Homo sapiens: one gene and its partners. The protein of the gene in region 2 purifies or fractionates together with the protein of the main gene of each other region. This does not show direct contact. Each region holds a gene or a part of one and is shown on either strand. Other genes may lie near its edges.

What was found. The genes of interacting proteins can lie anywhere in the genome.
Region 1: the proteins of RPA3 (region 2) and ZUP1 purify together in Homo sapiens (affinity purification with western blotting; 3 studies listed by BioGRID, with this or other methods). This does not show direct contact.
Region 3: the proteins of RPA3 (region 2) and TOP3A purify together in Homo sapiens (affinity purification with mass spectrometry; 3 studies listed by BioGRID and IntAct, with this or other methods). This does not show direct contact.

Annotation. Positions count from the first base shown.
Region 1 is NC_000006.12:116,658,373-116,665,766, forward strand, and holds part of ZUP1 (zinc finger-containing ubiquitin peptidase 1), read right to left. Parts: intron 2,475-7,394; coding exon 2,364-2,474; intron 1,998-2,363; exon of another isoform or gene 1,861-1,997; intron 553-1,860; coding exon 431-552; intron 1-430. UniProt on the Homo sapiens protein: Deubiquitinase with endodeubiquitinase activity that specifically interacts with and cleaves 'Lys-63'-linked long polyubiquitin chains. Shows only weak activity against 'Lys-11' and 'Lys-48'-linked chains.
Region 2 is NC_000007.14:7,638,535-7,646,528, forward strand, and holds part of RPA3 (replication protein A 14 kDa subunit), read right to left. Parts: intron 2,642-7,994; 5' UTR 1,885-2,641; coding exon 1,786-1,884; intron 611-1,785; coding exon 536-610; intron 1-535. UniProt on the Homo sapiens protein: As part of the heterotrimeric replication protein A complex (RPA/RP-A), binds and stabilizes single-stranded DNA intermediates that form during DNA replication or upon DNA stress.
Region 3 is NC_000017.11:18,311,601-18,318,856, reverse strand, and holds the start of TOP3A (DNA topoisomerase 3-alpha), read left to right. Parts: upstream 1-3,862; 5' UTR 3,863-4,078; coding exon 4,079-4,258; intron 4,259-7,256. Other genes in the region: guanine nucleotide exchange protein SMCR8, read right to left, coding at 708-3,067. UniProt on the Homo sapiens protein: Releases the supercoiling and torsional tension of DNA introduced during the DNA replication and transcription by transiently cleaving and rejoining one strand of the DNA duplex.

The DNA of each region.
Region 1 (7,394 bases), on a different chromosome or scaffold from region 2:
AGACATTAATTCTAAGTATAAATTTCGCTTCCAAGCATCTATACAAACACTTAAATTCTGAGTCTTGGTTTCCTAATTTGTCCCATCAACTTACACAGGTTTGAATGCAAGCTTTATCACTAATTAGCTGCCTGACACTGAGCAAATTACTTAACCATTCTCTGTCTCCATTTCTTCATCTGAAAAAAAAGGGGGCGTGGGAGGGCCTAAAGTAACTTCTTCATGAATATGTTGCAAAGATTTTGAGATATTGTATGTGAAGTGATTACCCCTGTGCCTCACTAGAATGAATATTTATAAATGGTGTCTGTTACAAACATGTATAAATTTTTTTTGAATAATAACAAGGACAAAAATAATACACTGGAAAGCATATTTGAAAAATAACTTTACCAAATCAAAATATTATAATTGTTATTAATCTTTGTACCTGCAGCTTCTGAAATTCTTCTATTTCTTGTCTTGATTCTTCAGATCTCCTCTTTCTGTCTTCTTCTTGCTGAAGCTGGTGAGCCAATTGTAGATCACCAGAACACTGGACTCTATCCATGCCTGTTAGGTATTGTTAATGTTCAGAATAAAATAACTGTTGCAATCAAAGATTATTTATTATTTAATATATGTTTTTAAAATAGAGTAAATGCTGTTATTTGCCATTTATTCATGACTGTGATGATATGGAACTGAGTACAAATTTAGCAAAACTTAGAACTGCTTTGGTAAGGAATAACCTCCATCTAAATGACAACTAACAGTCACTGTTTTTTGTTTTTTGAGACGGAGTTTCGCTCTTATTGCCCAGGCTGGAGTACAATGGTGCGATCTCAGCTCACTGCAACCTCTGCCTGCCAGGTTCAAGTGATTCTCCTGCTGCAGCCTCCTGAGTAGCTGGGATTACAGGTGCCTGCCACCATGCCCAGCTAATTTTTGTATTTTTAGTAGAGATGGAGTTTCGCCATGTTGGTCAGGCTGGTCTCAAACTCCTAACCTCAGGTGATCCACCAGCCTCGGCCTCCCAAAGTGCTGAGATTACAGGCGTGAGCTACCATGCCCAGCCTCACTAAGTGTTTAAAGCTGTGACAAGCACTTTTCATTAATTATATCATTTGATCTTTGTAACAATCTTATGAAGTAGTTATTATTATTTACTGAGGAAACCAGAATTTTAAAACGTTAAGTAACATCCTGCATTGATACTCCTTAACATAACTAAGGCAGATTGATTTTTCAAAGAAATACTAGGGGAGAAAAAAAAAAAAATAAAGAGCATAAAAATACACATTTACAAAGTGCAGGTGTTAGATAATAATTTAATTACAGTTTGGCCCCCAAAAATGGTAAAACTTTGCAACATCTCATCCTGCATCTTCTCTACTCGGTGTCCCCCAGATCCATTTGTCAGTGGCTTCTGGCCACTATCTTGTCTCCTTAACCCCATGACCTGATGGTTTAATTATATCACTGACTATTCTTCCTTTCCTTTCAAAGTTCTCAGCTGCTGCTACATCTTCCTATTTGGTCACCCTTCCATTCTTGGGGATATACAAGTCACACTCAATGTTTAGTGTCCCCTGAGGTTATCTACAGTGATTTACTTAGACCATATCTTTTTCTTATTACCCACTATAGGTTTACACTGTAATATACGTGCTCATACAAAGCCTATCATAAATAAGAGTAAGAATTAGCAGACATTCAGAAACCACCAGAGCAGGGAACTTTTCCATCTTTGCCCCAATAATCTCATATTTGGCTTAGGGTGAGTGAGCAGTAACATTGTCCATGAACACCGATACTGGTACTAGGATCATTGATACTGGACACTAAAGACCTCTGCCTTAACAGAAGCTATCTACGTACCTTAAAAAACTGAAATAGGGTAAAACACAATTGGTTTCTCTTGGGATCTACTTTTTATTTTCGTTCAGTGGGCTTCTAACATTCATATAGGATTTTTCCACTTCTAAGCCACCATAATGATTATTTAAACAATGCCACTATTAAAAAACATAGGGGAGAAAGGAAAACTTTTATAGAATCACAATAAAACCAGTAAGTCATTTAGAAGCTATTCAAGCAGCTCAAGATGCACTGAAAGATGTTTTGGTTATATAGTTCACATTCATTTGTAAAATTTTATGTGCCATATGGCAGTTTTCTAGTTCAACAATTTTCGCTGACCAAATACAATATTCAGATACTTCTAGCTGCTAAAGAAATGGCCTCAACTTGTAAATAAAACACTTTTAAAGGAAAAGATGTATTTTAAAATATTTTTTCCATATCACAAATCTAAAAATTAGATATGTGTCCTAGAAAGTAGAAATTAAATGATATTTTTATCTTCAAACATATAAACATACCTTGCTGAAAGCTGTTTTCTTCCAAATGCAAGTCAACATGTTCCTGAAGAATATGGTAATTTGTACATATGAGCCCACACATAGGACAATCATAGAGTGGTTGATCACAGTCTGTATCAGAGATATAATTAAGTTGTTTTTATTTTTTTATTTTAATTTTTTTCTTTGCTTTTTTTTTTTTTGAGACAGGGTCTCACTCTGTTGCCCAGGCTGGCGTGCAGTGGCACCATCACGGCTCACTGCAGCAATCCTCCCATCTCAGCCTCCCAAGTAGATGGGGCTAAAGGCATGCGCCACCACGCCCAGCTAATTTTTTTTTTTTTAGAGATGAGATCTCACTATGTCGTCCAGGCTGGTCTCAAACTCCTGGACTCAAGTGATCCTTCTGCCTCAGCATCCCAAAGTGCTGGGATTACAGGCATGAGCCACCATGCCCAGCCAAGTTGGTTTTATTTTTATAACTTTTAGATTTTTTCACCCCATGTCAAAGACTGTCTACCACCTATTAACCTTATATAAGTAAAAGCTCTTTGTAGTGGATTTAAAAGCTATTTTTCTACTTCTAGGGTCGAGATAGAAGGCTGAGCATAGCACAAACCTCTCATACCACTCCAAAAAAAAAGGAAATATTAATAATAAATATTCAGATCTGTAGTCAAAACAAGAGAAGCAGAAAGGAAAACCAAAGTGGTAAGTAGGGCCCAGTCTGGATATGGGTTTTTAGGACTAAATTCTCAGCACCCAACAGAGTGGTAAGGTGCTGAACTTAAACATCCAGCATAAAGCTGGGAATTGGGGTAATACTGTCTACACAGGAGCAGGAGATTAAAGAGCTGCATCCATCACATAGCACTGCAGGCAGACAGGTCTAGCTTGCCAAAAACAGAAATTGTTCCTCTATAAGACCAAGACCTAGCAGATAAGGGACATAGAAGAGGGACCCAGAATTGTGCATATACACAGAGTGAAAGCATAGAGCAATCTGTATATGTAAGGCCTGGTCTGAAAGCAGAGACTGTGAACAGCCAGTGTGAAGGAACCATGAAACTGCTTCACAGGGAAGGGATCATATAAAACTCCCATAACAGATGAACACTAAAATTTGAATTGCTAAACTCACTGGGGGCTGCAATGCCAAGAAAAACAGCTAAGAAATCTACAAACTGAAAAAGTTACCTGTGAAGAAATGGAGCTACAGTAATCCATAATAAACTGTAAAATAAGTATGTTCAAAATGCTCACTGAAATAAAGGAGGGAACTGAATCTTTGAAACCAGGACAGAAAGTTACTAAGAAAAAATAGAAAGATGAAGAAAATGAAAATATTAAGATGTAATCATTGGAATAAAAAATTCAATGGCAAAGCTCAAGAGAAAATGAAGTATTAAGTACTCAGAAAATATTTCCAAAAGCAGCAGTAAGAAATAATGGTATACAGCTTCCATAAGTAATGCTGGCGGATGTAAGAGAAGTCTTTCAGCCAGTTCTCTACCATAAAATGCCTTAGAGCCAGAGCCAATGCCAAGGAGGCCTTTGCTTATCGCTTTGATCATCACACTACTGCAAGCCAATCCCTCCACCCCTTCTAGTTTTAAGTGATAACCAACCTTCCTCAACATTAGACCACACTACACCTCATATCCCAGTATACATTTTTTACCACCAGAATCTAAACTAAGCCTCAGAGGTTAGCCATCATCATCCAATGGAGTCATCTAGGGCTGATGTAACCACCAACACTGTTGTGTCAATGAATCCAATCTAATTGTTCAGTGGCAGTGTCTTAACAATCTTTAAATACCTGAAGGACATCTGCTAATCTGACCCAAGCTATTACCCCTCCTATTCTCCCAATACCTACCACAATGCCCTCAGAAATACCATCGGTCATCAGTCAGCTTCTCTATACACAAAATCTTTCTCTGGATATTCACTTCACCTTCTTGACTTAACTAAAATCTGGTTGGTTCATGACACCCCATTTTCTCTACAGCCCCCTAACACACAGGCAACTTTTCTTTCACAATTCAGGGCCCTAGAAGTAGAAGAGGCATCCCCTTTGCTCCCTTTCACCACTGTCAAACCTGTTTTAAGCCCCATTTTTGTAATAACTCATGTCACCATAATATGGCATCATCTACCTTTCTTAGTGCCTAATATTTTCTGAAGTCTTAGACACTCCTTTCATTTACTAAAAATGTTAACACCTGGATCAAAACCTTCTTTTCCTAGCCCCTATACTATGATCATTCTTAGCAACTTCAATATCCATAGAAATAGTTCTATGCCTTCATTTCCAACAATCTTTTCCTTTACCCTAATTTACCAACCGAATGACAAAAATTATACCCTTAATTTATCACTAAGTGAATCTCTGAAATCTCAATTTCAAATATCACTCCCAAACACCTATCCTTCTACCTCACTTCTTTTAATTCTACCACTCTAAAAAGTGTTTGACCTAACTAAAACCTCCTATATAGAATATACAAACCCTATTTTTCTGTCATTCATTACCCCCCTCATGTTTTTCTTTACTTTCCAGCCCAGATTCCACATATCTTCTCTATATGATAATCATTCCCTTAAAAACACCTGCAAATCCACCTGTTCCATTTACTATAACTGAACATTGGTTAAATCTAGCTATTTACCTATTTCACTTCTGTACTTCTAATGACAACAGGTCTTTTTTAACCGCAACTAAACATTCAGACTCCTAAGACTACCAAAATTCACCAGTTTACTGGTCCTGAGAAACTTACAGGAAATGTTGTGTCAGCAAAGGATTGTCAGGCATTTTTCAATACACTTGTTTTTTTTCCTTGCAGCAGTCCATAAATTTTCATTATTAGCAGATAATAAAATGATCTACTTAGAATACTCAAGGGAATTAATGTAGAATTATTAAAATTCGTTAACAGGCCAGACGCAGTGGCTCCCACCTGCAATCCTAATGCTTTGGGAGGCTGAGGAAGGAAGACTGCTTGAGCACAGGAGTTCAAGACCAGCCTGAGTAACATAGCAGGACCTCATTTCTATTAAATATTAAAAAAAAAAAATTAGCTGGGCGTGGTGGTGCAGGCCTGTAGTCCCAGCCCCTTGGGAGGCTGAGGCAGGAGAACCACTTGAGCCCAGGAGATCAAGGCTGCAGTGAGCCATGATCATGCCACTGAACTCCAGCCTGGGTGACATAGTAAGACCTTGTCTCAAAAAATATAAAATAAAATAATATTAGTAATAGTTGAATAAGACTAGATACCTCAACTATCTATAAAAATTGATAGTGTTTCTATAAAACTGCAAAAGTTTCTTAGATGAGAGGGAAAAAAATCTAATTTACAAAAGCAACAGAAAATATAAACTATACAGAAATAAAGCTAACACAAATGTGCAATGAAAAAACAACACAAGCCTGGGCGCGGTGGCTTACGCCTGTAATCCCAGCATTTTGGGGGGCTGAGGTAGGTGGATCATCTGAGGTTAGGAGTTCCAGACCAGCCTGGCCAACATGGCGAAACCCTGTCTCTACTAAAAGTACAAAAATTAACTGGGCCTGGTGGTGGGCAGTGGTAATCCCAGCTACTTGGGAGGCTGAGACAGGAGAATTGCTTGAACCTGGGAGGCAGAGGTTGCAGTGAGCAGAGATCGTGCCATTACACTCCAGCCTGGGTGACAGGGCAAAAGTCCATCAAAAAAAAAAAAAACACACACACACAAAATTGTATTAAAGGATACAAAAGATGACCTGAATTAATGGGGAGATGTACTTTGATCTAATTTAAAACAAAATGACAACAGAGTTTTTATGAAACTTGATAATATGGCTTTAAAACTCAAAGAAAAGAAAGAATGAGAAGGTCTAAGTTGATGATGAAAATGAAGAACGAGGGAAAAACTGTCCTATCTGATGTTGATGACATTTTACAAAATAGCTATTAAAGTGGTGGTGTAATAAGGGAACAAAAGTCACATAGATAAATACAGCAGAAGTAAGAGACCAGAAACTGGCCCACACAGATATGAAAATGTAATAAAAAACAGAAACCATATTATAAATCAGAGATATATCTGGTTTCTGTACAGGGAAAAACTAAAAATTAGATCCCAAGTTCACAAAATATACACATGTACACAAGTACAGACACACACACACACACACACACACACAATCCAGAAAAAATTTTAAAAAGTGAAAATATAAAACATTAAAGTTTTTAGAATATATGAGAATAGCTTTTTGAATTCAGAGTAAAGAATACTTTTTTAGACAATACATAGAAAACAAAAATAAAATTCAAATACTGCACAAAATTCAAGGATAAGCAACATCTTATGGAATACAGCTGAAGGATTAGTATTGAAAATATATTTTAAAAGCAACTGAAAAAAACTCAAAAAATATTTGACAATATACAGTTGAAAAATGCATGTAACTCAAGTGTACAAAAAATGTAATATGCAGTTCATAATAGAGGAAATTAAAATAACTATACAAAAAAAGATTGATTTCATAATCAGAGAAATGCATTAAAAAAGAATGTAGACACTGACTTCATACCTTTTACATAGAGTAATTCAAATGTATCACAGATCTAAATGTAAAATACAAAACTATCAAACTTCTAGAAGTTGGCAAAGAGTTTTTAGACACACCAAAAGCATGATCCATGAAAGAAGAAATTGTCAAGTTGCACTTCATTAAAATTAAAAACTTCTACTTCATGAAAGACACTGTTAAAAGAATAAAAAGACAAGCCACAGACTAAGAGAAAATATCTGCAAAATACACATCCAAAAAAGAACTTGTATCCAAAATACAGAAAAATTTTTCTTTTTTTTTTTTTTTTTTTTGGAGACAGGGTCTTATTCAGTCACCCAGAGTGGAGTGCGGAGTGCAGTAGTGTGATCATGGCTCACTGCAGCGTCCACTTCCCAGGCTCAGGTGATCCTCCTATTTCAGCCTCCCAAATAGCTGGGGCTACAGACGCAAGCCACTAGGCCTGGCTAGTTTTTTGGTTTTTTTTTTTT
Region 2 (7,994 bases):
TTTACAAAAAACAAAACAAAACAAAACAAAACAAAACAAAACAAAAATTAGCCAGGCATGGTTAAGCATGCCTGTAGTCCCAGCTACTGGGGAGGCTGACATGGGAGCAACTTGATCTTGGGAGGCTAAGGCTGCAGTGCGCCATGATGGTGCCACTGCATTCCACCCGGGGTAACAGAGTGAGACCCTGTCTCAAAACAAAAAAACAAAAACGAAACAAAAAACCTCTTGAGGAAGAAAAAAGCAACGTAAATTTTTCTTATGTGATTTTATGGTCTTTCATAAGGAATGAGAATTGTTATCCAACATTTATGGGATATGTTCAAAAATCATGACGCCCAAAAAATCATTGGTTAAAAATGTAAAAGGAAATATAATGAGAGAATAGTACAAGAATTAAATTTTACAGCCAGGGACGTTTTACCAGCTCATCCTTTTTAAATCCATTGCAAAAATTAGAAACATCGGCAACAAACCAAATCAAGATGAAGAATTAACTATAATATATAAGAGACTTATTAACACTTAAACATACGGGTTCCATCAACTCGATGGTTCCATTTTTTCCTTCTCCATCTGAAAGAATAAACATTTTTCCGGTGGGATGAATCTAAAAACGAAACATATAATTAAAATCTCACTAAAACAACAACAAAGTTTGACTAAAGATGAGTACATTGATCCTTAGTTGAGCACAAATCAACTGTTTCTTGAACAGTTTATTCATTCAGTTTATTCAACTTATTGGATCAAATTATAATCTTATGTTATCAAATCTGTTCATGGAACACACAGTTAATTTCTGAATTTCAGATAAACAAGGATTTTTTTTGTAGTGTTAAGTAGGTTCTGTATTTGCTAAATATGGCAACCCTATTCTGATAACAAATTAAAGGATGCCCACCCTAAAAGTGAAATCTGCTGGCACTCATGATTTAGACAGTACATATCCCACGGAGGGTATGTTTTAAAAAACAGGCATGATGAAGTAAAAGGAGAACTGGTTGCTAGAATATCTGGGTCCTACTCCTGGGAAGCAGCTGTAAAGAGCGCTGTCAGATTGCGTTTGAATGCCAGCTTTGCCATTTGCCGAGTTTCTGAGCATTTTAGTCAACCACCTACCACTCCTACTCAGTTTCCCTACTTGGGAAGTCAGAGCAACACTCATTTAAGGAAGAGGATGTGTGGATGAAATGAGCTACTAAATAAGTCTTTATATAATAGTTTTCTTTTCCTCAGCTTTTCAGGTCACTGATTCCAAGACTTTGGGCCTGTTTCTCGCCTGTAGAATGAGGGAACTTCACTTTAATACTGGGGTTAAATAACTCGTTACTACGGGACCCAAAGCGGACAACCAAGGCATGTTTTACAGAGAAGCGATCACAACGAGGAAACGAGGTTTGCAAAAATAAGTAATTTCAGAAGAGAAGGAAACCAGCAGATTAGTTTTGTCTGCGTCCGTCACGTCTGAGTAAACTAAGAAATCTGAAGGTAGATGTGGGAGTGGTGTTTATAATTTCCCTTACGTAAGCACGGCTAGAACGGAGGCGACGGGCACTGGAATTTAGAACTCAGCATTTGAAAACACTTTGTTTCCGTGCCATAAAAGAGCGCCAAAATGGGGCTACAACGGCTAAAGAATTTCCAAAAAGTTCCTTGTGCAAAATAAAGGAGTCGGGGGCGCAGTGATCGGAGGCTTTCCGTCCTTTTTCATCCCCCGTTATCCAGGCGGGGTCCCTCCCTCCAGCTACGGACTTGGGAGCCCATGATTGCGAACCCGCACACCTTTTCCAGCCTCCCTACGAAGCAGACAGGCTTGTCGATGAATTGAGCTAGCATGCCGGCGTTGATGCGCGACCTGGGCAAGTCCATCATGTCCACCATGATTATGGTCCAAGACTGCGGCTGGCGGGAAACCCACGGACGACTGAAACTGTGCGCCCCGCGGGTGTCTATGGGGCAGATTTCTCGGCACCAATCAGCGAAGACTAGCGCTCCAGCTTCGCCAATTAAATGCGCGGAAACCTAAATCGCAATCGCGCTGTCTCTGAAAGGGGTGGAGAAGGGGCTGGATGAGTCCGGAAGTGGAGATTGGCTGCTTAGTGACGCGCGGCGTCCCGGAAGTTGACAGATACAGGGCGAGAGGCAGTGGAGGCGGGACTTGGATAGGGGCGGAACCTGAGACTACCTTTCTGCGATCACAGGATTCCCGGCGGTGACTTGACCCCGGAAGTGGGGTGTGAAGCTCCGGTGCTGGTGCGGCGGGGGACTGCGGGGCCAGCCTCAGGTACCTCGTCTCGCGGGAGGCGCCGCAACCTTACTGTTTCCCCATTCTTCCCGCGAACAGAGTCAAAAGAGCTAGGCGGGAGTCGGCACTAGCTGCTGCCGCGGTGCTGTGGGTGCTGCGTACCAGCTGTTCACTGCTGTCTCGCCTTCCCTCTTGCCAGTTCTGCGTGGGAGGCGCGGGAGTTTTGCGGAATGATACGTGGTGTGGCGTCGGGGTTGTGATACCCGCCCCCTTGGAGATGGGCAGCGGGGTCATCAGTGATCTTGATCACTTTCTTCAGGCTTTTGCCACTTGTTGGCTGAGGGTCGATTTACTCCCTTAGCTGCGTCACTCTACTTTCTCCACTTTCTCCACCTGTAAGAAGAGAGATTGATCCGATTACTTCTAAGACGTTTTTTAGCCCAACCTGGCCACACTGCGGAGGCGCCGGTTCTTTCACCCCGCTAACCCCTCCGTGTTGGCAGCCAATAGAAGCACTTAAGGATGGGTAACGGGGAAGAACCACTGGCCAGTACTAGGGGAGACAAGCTTAAATCGTTGTTAGACCCCGAGCTAGGGTTCCCCGAGCTAGGGTTCTCCCTTCTGAGGCGTGTTTTCCCCATCTGCAAAACGAAGGGTTAGGCGGAATGATTTGCAAGGTCCCAGTTGACTCTGACTTTTGGCCATATGTTTGACTCAACAGTTTAAACCCCCTCAGCAGTCTTTCTGTCGTTGCCCTCCACACTGCGAGACTCTGGAGGGCGATCTGGAGGTCTGGAAGATAACCGATTCCTGGGAGATTTGGGGGTAGTCTCCAATCTGTCCCTGGCTCATCTTGTGACCCGAAGCCGGCGGCCTTGCCAGGAGTATTCTAGAATGAGTGCACATAAAAATACCTTCAAACGGTACGGTGGAAATTGGACAGAAGTTTTAATTGGGTATTATAACGTTGTGGAAACTGAGTCTGTGAATTGGCCCAAAGCTACAGAATTGTCATCGTTCAAATTCCCTTAAGCAAAAAAGATCCGATTTGAGACTTCACGTGGCAATTTAAGATTGGAATCTCATGTACGATAATTAAATGATAGTCTCCCTTAGTGTTTCCTTAGCACTTAATAGGTTTGTCTTAGTTTTACTCACTAACGGTACTTTAAAGGATTTCATTAAACAGATGTAGAATGTGTGTCAGTGGTGTATAAAAAAGTTGTGGTTGTATTGGTGCAAGTCAGTAAAGTCTATTTTATATTACAGCTTTAAGTCTTTTGTACTTTAGCATTGTTTTGCAAAGCAAGTTGATGTGCATTATATAGGGGAGAGTACACACATCAATGTCTTTAATAGCATTTTTTTTTGAGGCAAGATCTCTCTCTGTCACCCAGACTGGAGTGCAGTAGCATGCACATAGCTCACTGCAGCCTTTAACTCGTAGGCTTAAGCGATCCTCTCACCTCAGCCTGCCAAGTAGCTGGGACTATAAGCACATACCACCACACCCAGCTAATAAAGATTTTTTTTTTGTTGTTTGTTTTTTTTTGTTCAGATGGGGCCTCGCCATGTTGACCAGGCTTATCTCAAACTCCTGGGCTCAGGCGATCCCTCCCTCCCCCGTCTCCCTCCCAAAGTACTGGAATTACAGGTGTGAGCCTTGGTGCGTACCCTGTAATAGTGATTTTTTTTTTTTTTAAAGAGCACTCCTGTGAGTACCAGATGTTAATGTCGTTGTTTACCTGCAGTTAGAAAGACCACTTTTAAGCAAAGGCTTTCTTTTAAAACAGGGAGATGAGCAGGAAGATAATTTAAAACAGCTTTTTCGTGTATTTTTGAGTCACTTAAAATATTATAAAATACATGATGTACAGAAAAAAGTATAGCTAGCCGATTTGCATAGTTTTGAGAGAAATGAAATGAATCCATGGGGCCTGTCATTCAGCTGAAGAAATGGAACTTTACCAGTTACCAGTAAATTTTACCAGTTTGCACTTCCCCAATGAAGCCCTCCTTGCTACAGCCATAAGTAAACACTATCTTGAAATTTGTGTTAAGCTTCCTAAGCTTTTCTAGGTGGTTTTATCACACATGCAGGCGTTGCTAAATGGTATGTTGTTTAATATTGCCAGTCTTTGACCTTTATATAAACAGAAACGTATGTATCTTCTGACTTCTTTTGTTTGTTTTTGAGATTCATCTATGTTGACGAATGTACGTAGATCATATTTTTTTTTCTGTTACAGGTAGGCATGAGTGGGACAGTAGTGGGCTCTCCCCCAACCCACTAGAAATGTTGGGGGATGGTTTGGCAATTACCGAATTTGCTTCTCTAAAAATGATAATTCTGCAGCGCCAGGGAGAGGCCATTTCCTGATGGTCCACACCTGTTATCAAAATGTTAATTGAATGTAGACCCGAGGGAGAAACAGCTTCCTGGGCATGCATATTAAGAGACAAAAATGGTAAAGTATGATCTTCCAGGTACACTCCACCGGAAAAAGGAAGGAAGCCTCAGATGGGCGTGCATGTAACTCCCTAAAAACACTTCCCAAGGCTAAGGAGGGCTCTGTGCCTGCCGGCAGCCTATCCTAAGGAAAGAATCATGGGAAATAGACAAGCTTGTAAAAGTCCTAGGATCAGGGCCGGGCGCGGTGGCTCACGCCTGTAATCCCAGCACTTTGGGAGGCTGAAGCGGGTGGATCACCTCAGATCAGAAGTTCAAGACCACCCTGGTCAACATGGTGAAACCCTGTCTCTACTAAATATACAAAAAAGTATCCAGGCGCGATGGCGGGGGCCTGTAGTCCCAGCTACTCGGGAGGCTGAGGCAGGAGAATGGCGTGAACCCGAGAGGCGGAGCTTGCAGTGAGCCGAGATCGCGCCACTTCACTCCAACCTGGGCCACAGAGCGAGACTCCCTCTCAAAAAAAAAAAAAACAAACAAACGAAAAAAAAAGGATCAACGGTTAAATCGGACACTTGACCTACTCTCTTTAACCTTCACATTCCCGCTTGGGTCTCTAACAAGCACACCTTCCTTTCTTCCTGTTTTAAGGCCTTTTAAAGTAAACTTCCATTCCTGCTCTGGAACTTGCCTGGGTCTCTGTTTCTGCTTTATGCCCCTCAGTCAAATTTTTTCGTCTGAGGAGGCAAGGACTGAAGTTGCTACTGACCCGTGAGGATAGGCCACCGGTAACTTGGGGTAACTTGGATCTCTGCCACTAGTAAAAAAATGATTTCCCCAAATGGTGGTACCAGTTTACTCTCTTACCTGGAGTATAAGACAGTTTACAGTTATTGTATATTCTTGGCAACTCTTGGAGTTTTTTCCCCCAATTTGATGGATATGAAGTGTTTTTTTGTCGTGACCCTAATTTGCACTCCCTGATTACTGAAAAGTTTGAACATTTTTTCAGATTTTTATTGGTTATTTATGTTTATCTTTTTTTCCTTGATTTTTCTTTTTCTTACTGACTTTTAAGAGCTTTTTATTAGTGAGATATTGTAATGGTACAAGTGTTGTCTGTTTTTGGCCTATCTTTCCGTTTCCTTCCTTCATTCCATCCTTTTTTTTTTTTTATTAGGAAGACCTCTTTTAATATAGTTAAACATTTTCCCCCTTAAGTTTAATGTAGGAGAAAAGTCCATTAAAATCTCATTTATGAATTCTTTGATACATCGTACTCTTAAAGGTATTCTATTTTTCCTAAAATGTTTAGAGTTTTGCCTTTCATATTTAATAGTCCGTCATCTAGAATTCACTCTTCATGTATGTTGTCAGATAAGTCTCCAATCTCTGTTTTGTTTTAATTTCAGTTGTCCTAATGTGATTTGACTGTATCACCTTTTTGCCACCTTCACTTGTCACCTTAAGTTTACAGATATGTGTGGAGTCAATTCTATTCTATGGATCTATTTTTCTATCCCTGAACCACTACCTATTTTCTTTAATAGTGTAGCTTATCATAACTTTTGATGTCTGGGGCTGTGTTCTCGGGAATGTCTTGGTTATTTTTGTCTCTTTGCTCTTCTGTATAGAATGTAGCTTATGAATTTCCAGGAAAAACTGTGTTGGAATTTTGATCAAAATTGCACTGTATCCTTGGATGTATTTCAGGAAAAGTAACACCTGAATGTCAACTCTTACTATCCTTGAGCCATTTTGGTCCTCTTAAAATCTTTCCAAAAGGTCTCATACTTTTCTACATAAAAGTTTTGACTTTTAGCTTAGATTTATTCCTAGATACCTTGTTTTTGTTGCTATTATGAATGGTATCATTTTTTAAATTAAAGATTTTAACTGATTGTTTTGGTATATAGAAATGCCATTTTAAGAATTTTCTATCAGTTTTTTTTGGAATTTTCTATTCATATTTGAATAATTATAGTTTTGTTTCTTAAGAATTCTTACATATTTTATTTATCTTTCTTACCTTTTGCCTAGGATAGAGCCTTCAGTACCATTTTGAATAGAAATAGTGTTTAAGTCAAGATGGGGTTTAGCTGCATAAACAAAAGTATCTTTAATGCACAAACGCTTATTCTCACATGTGAAAGAAGTCCACAGCTGTGCAACTTAGTACTTATGTGGTAGTGCACTAAGACTCAGGGCCCCAGGTTCTTTCTGTCTTTCTGTAGTTCTACATTCAATATCTAGTTCCATATTTATGGTTATCTCATAGGCCAGGTAAGTGATGGAGCTTCAGCTATCAAGTAAATCCACGTTCTATGTGGCAGAGAAGTGGACCCGCATTCAGCTTCCTTTAAGGAGTATTCCCCGAAGTCCTTCCCAACTTGAATTTCTGTTTATTAGATTAAGGAATTTTCCTTCTATTCCTAGTTTGATAAGCATTTTAATTGAATTGTTACGGAATTTGATCAAATGCATTTTTTGCCTTAATTGAGATGATTGAAATGAGTATGTATTTTTCAGTGTTTGAACCAAGCTCACATTCTTGGAAGCTTGGTTATGATATATTGTCTTTTATATATATTCCTGGATTTGATTTGCTGTTGTTTTTGTTTAGGATTTTTTTTTTTTTAATCTATGTTCATGAGTGAGATTGGTCTGTAATTTTCCTTTTTTGTATAGTCCTTGTCAAAATTTGGCATTATGGTTATAAGACAGGAGAATTCCCTGGACCCCTTTGTGGGACTTGGAACCAGGGTGTGGCTCGTTTGCTCGGCTGCCGTGTACTCAAACCCCTTACGGGAGAGGGAGCATGCAGGTGAGCAGGTGCAGGAGTTGGGGTGAGTGATTTGGGCCTCCAGCCCCATGGCAGTGTCTAGGGGCGTTACAGTGCTCTTTTAGCCCTGCCGTCTGGGAATGGCTTAAGTGTTAAATAGCTCAGTAGAGTCAGTGTGACAGCCTTTTTGGGTTCCCACACCCAGTGCATCCTGAATTCTTGTCTAGCATCGAGGAGGAATCAGGTTACATGGGCTTGAAAGATGGTGAATGTGGGCATTTTATTGAGTGATGGAGGTGGCTCTCAGTGGGATGGTGATACGGTTTGGCTGTGCCCCACTCAAATCTCATCTTGAATTGTAGCTCCCATAATTCCCATGTGTTGTGGGAGGGACCCGATGAGAGATAACTGAATCATGGGGACAGTTTCCCCCATACTGTTCTCGTGGTAGTGAATAAGTCTCACGAGATCTGATGGCTTTATAAGGGGAAACCCCTTTCGCTGGATTTTTTTTTTTTTTTTTTTTTTTTTAATTCTCTCGTCTGACACCATGT
Region 3 (7,256 bases), on a different chromosome or scaffold from region 2:
TCCCTTCTGATGGGCCTTTTGCTTTTATAGAGAGATGCTCCCTGCAGTCGGGCTGGCAATGGCGACAGATAAATTCCATGTCTTACCTCACACCAACCGAATCAGAACCTCGAGGGCTTGTGACTCAGGAATCCATGATTTTAAAAACTTTCCGGCCAGGCACGGTGGCTCACACCTGTAATCCCAGCACTTTGGGAGGCTGAGGTGGGCAGACCACCTAAGGTCAGGAGTTCCAGACCAGCCTGGCCAACATGGTGAAACCCTGTCTCTACTAAAAATAGAAAAGTTAGCCGGGTGTGGTGGCAGGCGCCTGTAATCCCAGCTACTCAGGACAGTGAGGCAAGAGAATTGCTTGAACCCGGGAGGCGGAGATTGCAGTGAGCCAAGATCGCGCCATTGCACTCCAGCCTGGGGTACAAGAGCGAGACTTCGTTGCAAAAAAATAAAAATAAAAATAAAAACTTTCCCTAATAATGCTGACACAGCTCGGGGACAGATGGGGATTGGCAACCACCTAGGAACTGCAACCCCCTCACATGACAGACAAGGAAATAGAAACCAGAGAGGGGGATGACTTGCCAAAAGTAACACAGTGGTAGGAACTGGGCCCTGTCTAGAAGCCAGGCTTCCTGATTCTGGCTCCACCACACCAATATACCTCATCCCTATCTGGCCAAGGCCCTTCCCCACCACCTGGAACCAGTTACCTCTGCAAGCCAATAAGCTTCCACTTCTGAAAATCCATAATGTGCAAAGGGGAGGAGGCCCAATGTTTCACGGGCTTAGCGTAGCAGCCATAGCTGGGGACAAAGATAGCCAGTGCAGTCACGAGTTTCCTGACTATGGCCTCATCTTCCCCCAGGACCACAAGTGTCCTCCCACTGAGCAGGGAGTAGATGGCTGGGTGGGCAAAGGGGTACTGGCGGATGAATTTTAAGGCGTTCTGGCCAGCCCTCTTTTTATGCCTATCGGAAGACAGGCCAGCAGGATAAGCAGAGGGGATCCTGTCTGAGCTGGTGGACGCTACACTGCTCACGTAGCTGGTGGTGTCTGAGTAGTTGTCCAGGCTGGTCTTACTGATGTCCCGGCTAGCCAGCAGGTGGCTCGGGTCCAGCTCATAAGCGGGAAACCCTTCACAACTGTTGTCTCGGGAAGAAGGGTTGGCATTTTCCACTGAAAAGTCTACACGGAACCCCTGGTCCTTCTGCCTGTGGCGCTGTGGGGGGCTGCTCACCACCCCATCCTCGTCAGAGTGTGTGTGGGCTGGAGTGGAGGGCAGCACCAACTGACCATCGCTCTCCTTCCCAATACAGCAGGAGGAGTCTATTTGTGATGGGGTGTTTTCTATGCTGCCTTCCTCTGTCTCACCCAGTTCTGGAGGACTGATGCTTGCCTGGAAGCGGATGGCTCCTTCATTGCCATCTGGATATGATTCTTCTTCATTAATGGCACTTGGGTAGCTGGCCTTAAAGTCATCAGGGATGAGGGCCTCAGAGGGGCAGGTACTGAGGACTTCAATACTGTCCTCGCTGATGGTCCTGTGGCTGACTGCTTTGCTCCGGACCACCTGGGGGCTCAATGGTACTGTGAGGCTTGCCTGGCTGTCAGATTTAGAAAGCACGGAGGTGGATTTCTCCGTGCCCAAAACTTCAATACTTTCACCACTGCTGATACTCCCTTTCATATCCATATCCAGGTAGTCCAAGTTTTCCTGGGGGTCGAAACTGCTCAACTCAGTCACTTCCACTTCCTTGTACTCCTCATCTCCCAGTTCCTGCTCCATCTTGATCAACACAGACTCCACACTGGACTTGTAAGAACCAACACTAATTAACACTTTAGGAATTGGGCATTCTTCTAGAGAACTGGAAGGCGGCCTGTCTTGACTGGGCTTAGAGGGTATGCTTTCTTGTTTCTCCACCATCCTGTCATCGACCTCCACAAAGTCTTCAAAGAGAAAGTTTGTTATATGCTGTTGTTTTAGAAGTGCTCTATCAATCTGACTGGTCAGGAGGTAACACAGGTCTCCTCTGAACATGTGTTCAATGTGGCTGAGCTGAGCCAGGGTCTGGGTGAAATATTCAGTGTCACAGAGCTCCTCCAAGGTCTTCAACTTCTTGTCAAAACACTTGGTGGACTTTGCTTTGATAAGTTTTGGGGTGTAGGCTGGTCTGCAGGTGTAAAGGTCTGTGTCGGCAGACTCATCAGGGTTAGAGGTAGTGGATGCCTGGCTGGCCTGATCCTGGATGTGCTCCATCTCACCAGGACACAAATCATGCCCCTTCAACTTCCGATGAGGGTATGAGCGGATCTGCTTCAGCAGGTCTTGATGTTCAATGATGGACTTCTCCACACTGGCCAGTTCATTGGCTTTCTCAATTGCCTGAGATGAGTAAAAGCCTTTGTCGTTGGCTTTCTTCTGGATCTCCGTTTCTGTGTGTAGCACTGTCCTGGTGTAATCCAAGTCTTTCAGCTTTTTTTCAAGTTCCCCAGCAAATGCCTTCCTGTTGCCAGTCTTCAAGCACTCAGAAGCTCTGGAAAATTCGGCTGAAAGCTCCTGGAACTGCTGCATGATTTTATGCTGGTCTGCAGAGATATAAGCCATGCAAAACGGCCTCACGAAGCCACGGGCCTCCAGGTCGTATAGGGTAAGGTGGTGCACGTATGCAAAGGCGCCCTCCTTAGAATCTCCCAGCACCACCTTGGAGTCCTCCACGAAGTTCAGCTTGGGGTAGGCAGATCCAGGAGGATGGCCCACGAAGGAAGCCTGGTAATCCACAGACATGATACGCAGGGAGAAGTAATTGAGATCAAAAGTGCCAAAAACTTTGGTGTCATTGGGGATGGTCAGTAAGGGTTGGGGTCCCACCTGCTCAGAGAACTCGGAAATAAGAATGAAGTCCCTCGAAAACTTGGCCCCGGACAGTTTTGACCAGGGGTTAGCACCCTGACTGGCGAAGGGGAAGAGCGGCACCGAGTACTCCTCAGGCAGGGCCGGCTCATTGTAAGGCTCTTCTTCATACTCTTCCTCTTTGGTGAAGGCCACTACGTCAGGGGCGCTGATCATATTTCCAGATATATGAAGAAAACATTGAGAGGAAGTGGGAAAGAATGCGGTGTTAATCGACGCGCAGAAGGCAGGCCTCCGGAGAAGGAAGTGAAGCCCTTACGGCCTTCTTTGCGACTCCCCGAACCCGGGGTCCTAGGCTGCTTCTCACACACCCGAGGAGAAGAACTCTAGCAGCCCCCTCACAGTTGTAGCTCCTCCGGAGCTCTCTGAGGCCTCATGAACGCCAAGGCCGCAGGCCCAACTGCCCTTCTCTTCTTCGTCCGGCGAGCGCGGCCAGCACAAGAAACCTGCTGCGAAATCACCTGCACTCTCCGGAACCCACTGCGACAGCAAAAGCCCCCGCTCTGAACAAGGCTTAACGCGAGGCTACGGGACGCCGCAGGGGTCAGCCAAGCGCTGCTGCCCCTCACTGCCCGAGGGCAGAAACCGTCGCGGCTCCTAGGACGCCACAACCCGGATCCTGCTACCGCGGCGCCGCCATCTTGACATCACATGACTCCTGGTGTCCGCGCCGCGTGACCCGGAAGCGTCCTCGTAGACTTCCGAGCAGGAGATTAAAAAGTCATGAGAAAGAGGCCTTGGATGGGAGTGTCTGGCGGCTCCCCGCAAGAAGGAGTCCGATTAACCAACCACTGCCGGGAAGGAGGGGAAAGAGGGGCGGAGTGAGACGGGGGCGGCGGGAAGGTGGCAGAGGGGAACGTGCTTGGACGAGGGGCGCGGGACAGTCTGGGAGTTGTAGTTCCAGGTCGCTGTGGGGCGCGCGCCTGGCGGAAGTAGCTGGAGAAGGCGGGCGGAAGTTCCACGCCAAGATACTGGATTCGGTGCTGAGGCGGCGGCTGCGGCACGGGAAAGGCTCAGTGACTGAAGCTCCAAAGGCCAGCAGGCTGGTGGGGACGTGACCGAAGCGAGGCTCTGGTTCCCTTTCGGTGGGCGCCATTTGAGCCTCATCTCTGGCTTCCCCAGGATGCGCCGGCAGCCGGGGAGCGGCTCCGGGCGCGAGGTCTGAGGATGATCTTTCCTGTCGCCCGCTACGCGCTCCGGTGGCTGCGACGGCCCGAAGACCGTGCCTTTTCCCGCGCCGCCATGGAGATGGCCCTCCGAGGCGTGCGGAAAGTCCTCTGTGTGGCCGAAAAAAACGACGCGGCCAAGGGGATCGCCGACCTGCTGTCAAACGGTCGCATGAGGCGGGTAAGAAAGCGCGTTCCGATCAGCTGCGTGCCTTAAGGGAGGCCCACCGAGCGGGACAGCGTGGTGGGCGCCAAGAATCGAGATGAAGGCGATTATCTCCCATTTCTCAGGCCTCACTGCCCCTCGTCTGGATTATTGCAGTGGCCTCCTGTCTGCTCTCGGACTGGAGTGCATTTTAAAACGTAGTTGATACATCTCACTCATTTGCGTGGAAACCTTTTGTTTTGCTTGCGCTTAGCAGGTTCCCAAACTTGTCTGATTCTCGGAATCGCCTCGGGCGCTGGCTGCCCTTCGGGTCTTGTGTGAGGCTGGGGAAGTGTGTATTTTACTGTTTTTCCCTAGAGATTCAGAAATTCATTTGGGAACTACTGACCAGATTCCCTTAACTTGGCATTCAAGCCCTGCCCGATCGTTCCCCAGCCAACCTAGCCCTCCCCATCCTGTGCCACAGCCACTGCATTCTACAGCCCTTGTGACTTTCCAGCCTCACAGTGCACACTTACAGCAACACGGTAAGGTTTGGGGATTAGATTTGAAGTCAGCCCTGTTCCTACCCGAATGAACTGATTCTGAGAGAGGTAAGTGGTAAGAATGTGTTCTACACACACGGGAGGCACAAACGCAAGGGAGGATAAGAAAAAGTTTCATAAAGGAGGTGCCACGGGAGACATAAAGAGCTGTCCAGGAAAATATCTCAGATAACAAAAGTAGATCCTGAAATGGTTTTCTGGAGAACTTTTCTAAGAGCATGGGTGGAAGTTCCCTGCTCATTTTTCTTTAGTTCCCAGGGTCCTAAGACCTGTTTCCAGATCAAGGATAGTGGGAGTGGAGCCAGGGTTGTGTGAATGCTGGCTGACAGCTTTACCTGTTTCCAGTGCTAGAAGTCCTGGTGACCAGCCCCAAGGTTTGTCTACTTCTAGACAATGAAGTAGACATTGAAAAATGGTTCTCCTACGCCTAACTTCTTATCCTTCAAGGCTCTGCTGAATTCATTCTCTCTCTCTCCCTTTTTTTTTTTTTTTTTTAAGCAATCCAGAGGTCTTGTATTTATCTATTTTTACCCTATCATACCATGAATCCATAGGGAATAGGTTCCAGCGGCTCAGGCTCTTTTCCATTGGTTCTCACAAAGTGTACTTCCCTCAATGGAACAGGCTGGCACTTCAGGTGAACCCTTTCTCTTTGACTTGCTTCTTTTTTGATCATTTTCCTTCACACATTTCAGGAAAGATCTTGGTTCTTAGAGTGCTTAATATGCTCAATAGAAACATTAATTCTTTGGGCAAGAATCTAGCCCTTGTTCGCAGCAGTGCCAACAGCATGCTGGGTAACATAGACTTTTCCAGTTCTGCCATGTAACATTTGTGGGTCATTCCCTTTTGAACAGTATGCATTCTCACGAAGTCCTCAATATCACCTTCATTGTAGATTCTGGTGTCTGTGGCCAGAGAAACTCCATATTTTTGTTTTGTTTTGTTTGTTTGTTTTGAGATGGAGCTTTGCTCTTGTTGCCCAGCCTGGAGTGCAATGGTGTGATCTCAGCTCACTGCAACCTCCGCCTCCCGGGTTCAAGCGATTCTCCTGCCTCAGCCTCCCTAGTAGCTGGGATTACAGGTGCCTGTCACCATGCCCAGCTAATTTTTTGTATTTTTAGTAGTTTCACTGTGTTGGCCAGGATGGTCTTGAACTCCTGACTTCAGGTGAGCCACCCGCCTTAGCCTCCCAAAGTGTTAGGGTTACAGGCGTGAGCCACCGTGCCCAGCTCGAACTCCATGTTTTCTATAAGGCCAGGAGAACATACATCAGATGCCTCGTCCTCTTTTCCTTTGTGTTCGTCATTTTGGCAAATTACTCCAAGATGGCAGTTCCAGCCAAAAGGAAAGACTTTTCTTGGAAAGAGAATTTTTATTTTTATGTACAGAAAACACAACAGTGTGTACTTAACCCAGTTTAGTGGCAAATTCTTTAGCCTTTGCCTTTTCTAGGTTGGTAATGCAAGCTACAGATTTTGGACCCAGGGCATTGCCTCCCCAGTGACAGCAGATCTCATATGTCGTTGTAATTTGTCCCACCAGCTTAGCCAGAGCTCCTTTGTCTACCAGAAAGTTAACCTTTGTGAAGGTGACAGTGGTGCAGGTCTTCCTGTGGAATTTGACACCACAGTCTTGACGGTGCAGTAGAGAATCCCCATCTTAGGACACAGCACAGGCAGGAAGACAACCAGCTCAATGGGATCCACCACCAGCTGACCCTTCATGCTCTCTACCAAGTTGGTGACGGTGTCAACCCCTGCTCGAAGTGTAGGTGGTCTCTTAGTAGCGACATCCCCTTTGCTGGAAGCTTTCTTCTCAGCCTGGGCCAACGGTTTCGATCTCATCCCTTGCTCTGTCTCTTGTCTGTACTGTGGGCCAGCTTAAGCAATTGAGTAGCTTAAGTTTGGTAGTCTGAGGCCTGGGTGAACTGGTCAATCCCAGGTGGCACATCAGCCACTTATAGAGTACAGCGGCTCTGCCGCAGCAGCCATTTATAGCGGGACTATTTGACAAAGTGGGTGAGGCCCTTAGGCTAGATATCCAATGCCAAAATTATTAGGGCTTTTCTCAAATGGGATTTACCACCTTTTTGGCCTACTGCTGCTCCATGACAACAGGGGCCAGGGCCACTTCTTCCCCTTGGCCATCTTTCCTTTTGGCATCTGGGGCGGCTAGAGGAGAGAGGCTGCTGAAATGTCTCATCTTCAAGGAATCCTTCCCTCACCACCTGTTCCCCCACACTAGGTCAGAGACCCTTACTGACATGCTGTCATAGCACTCTATTCTACTTGAAAGGCATCTACTAGTTACAGTTAAATAATGGGATGTGCGATCATTTATTTGATTTTTGTCACTGCCTCTCCTTGGACTCTAAACTCCAAAGGACAGTGATTATATTTTGTTAATTGCTATGTCCTAACGCCTAATATGGTGTCTGGAATGCAGGAAACTTTCAATAAATATTA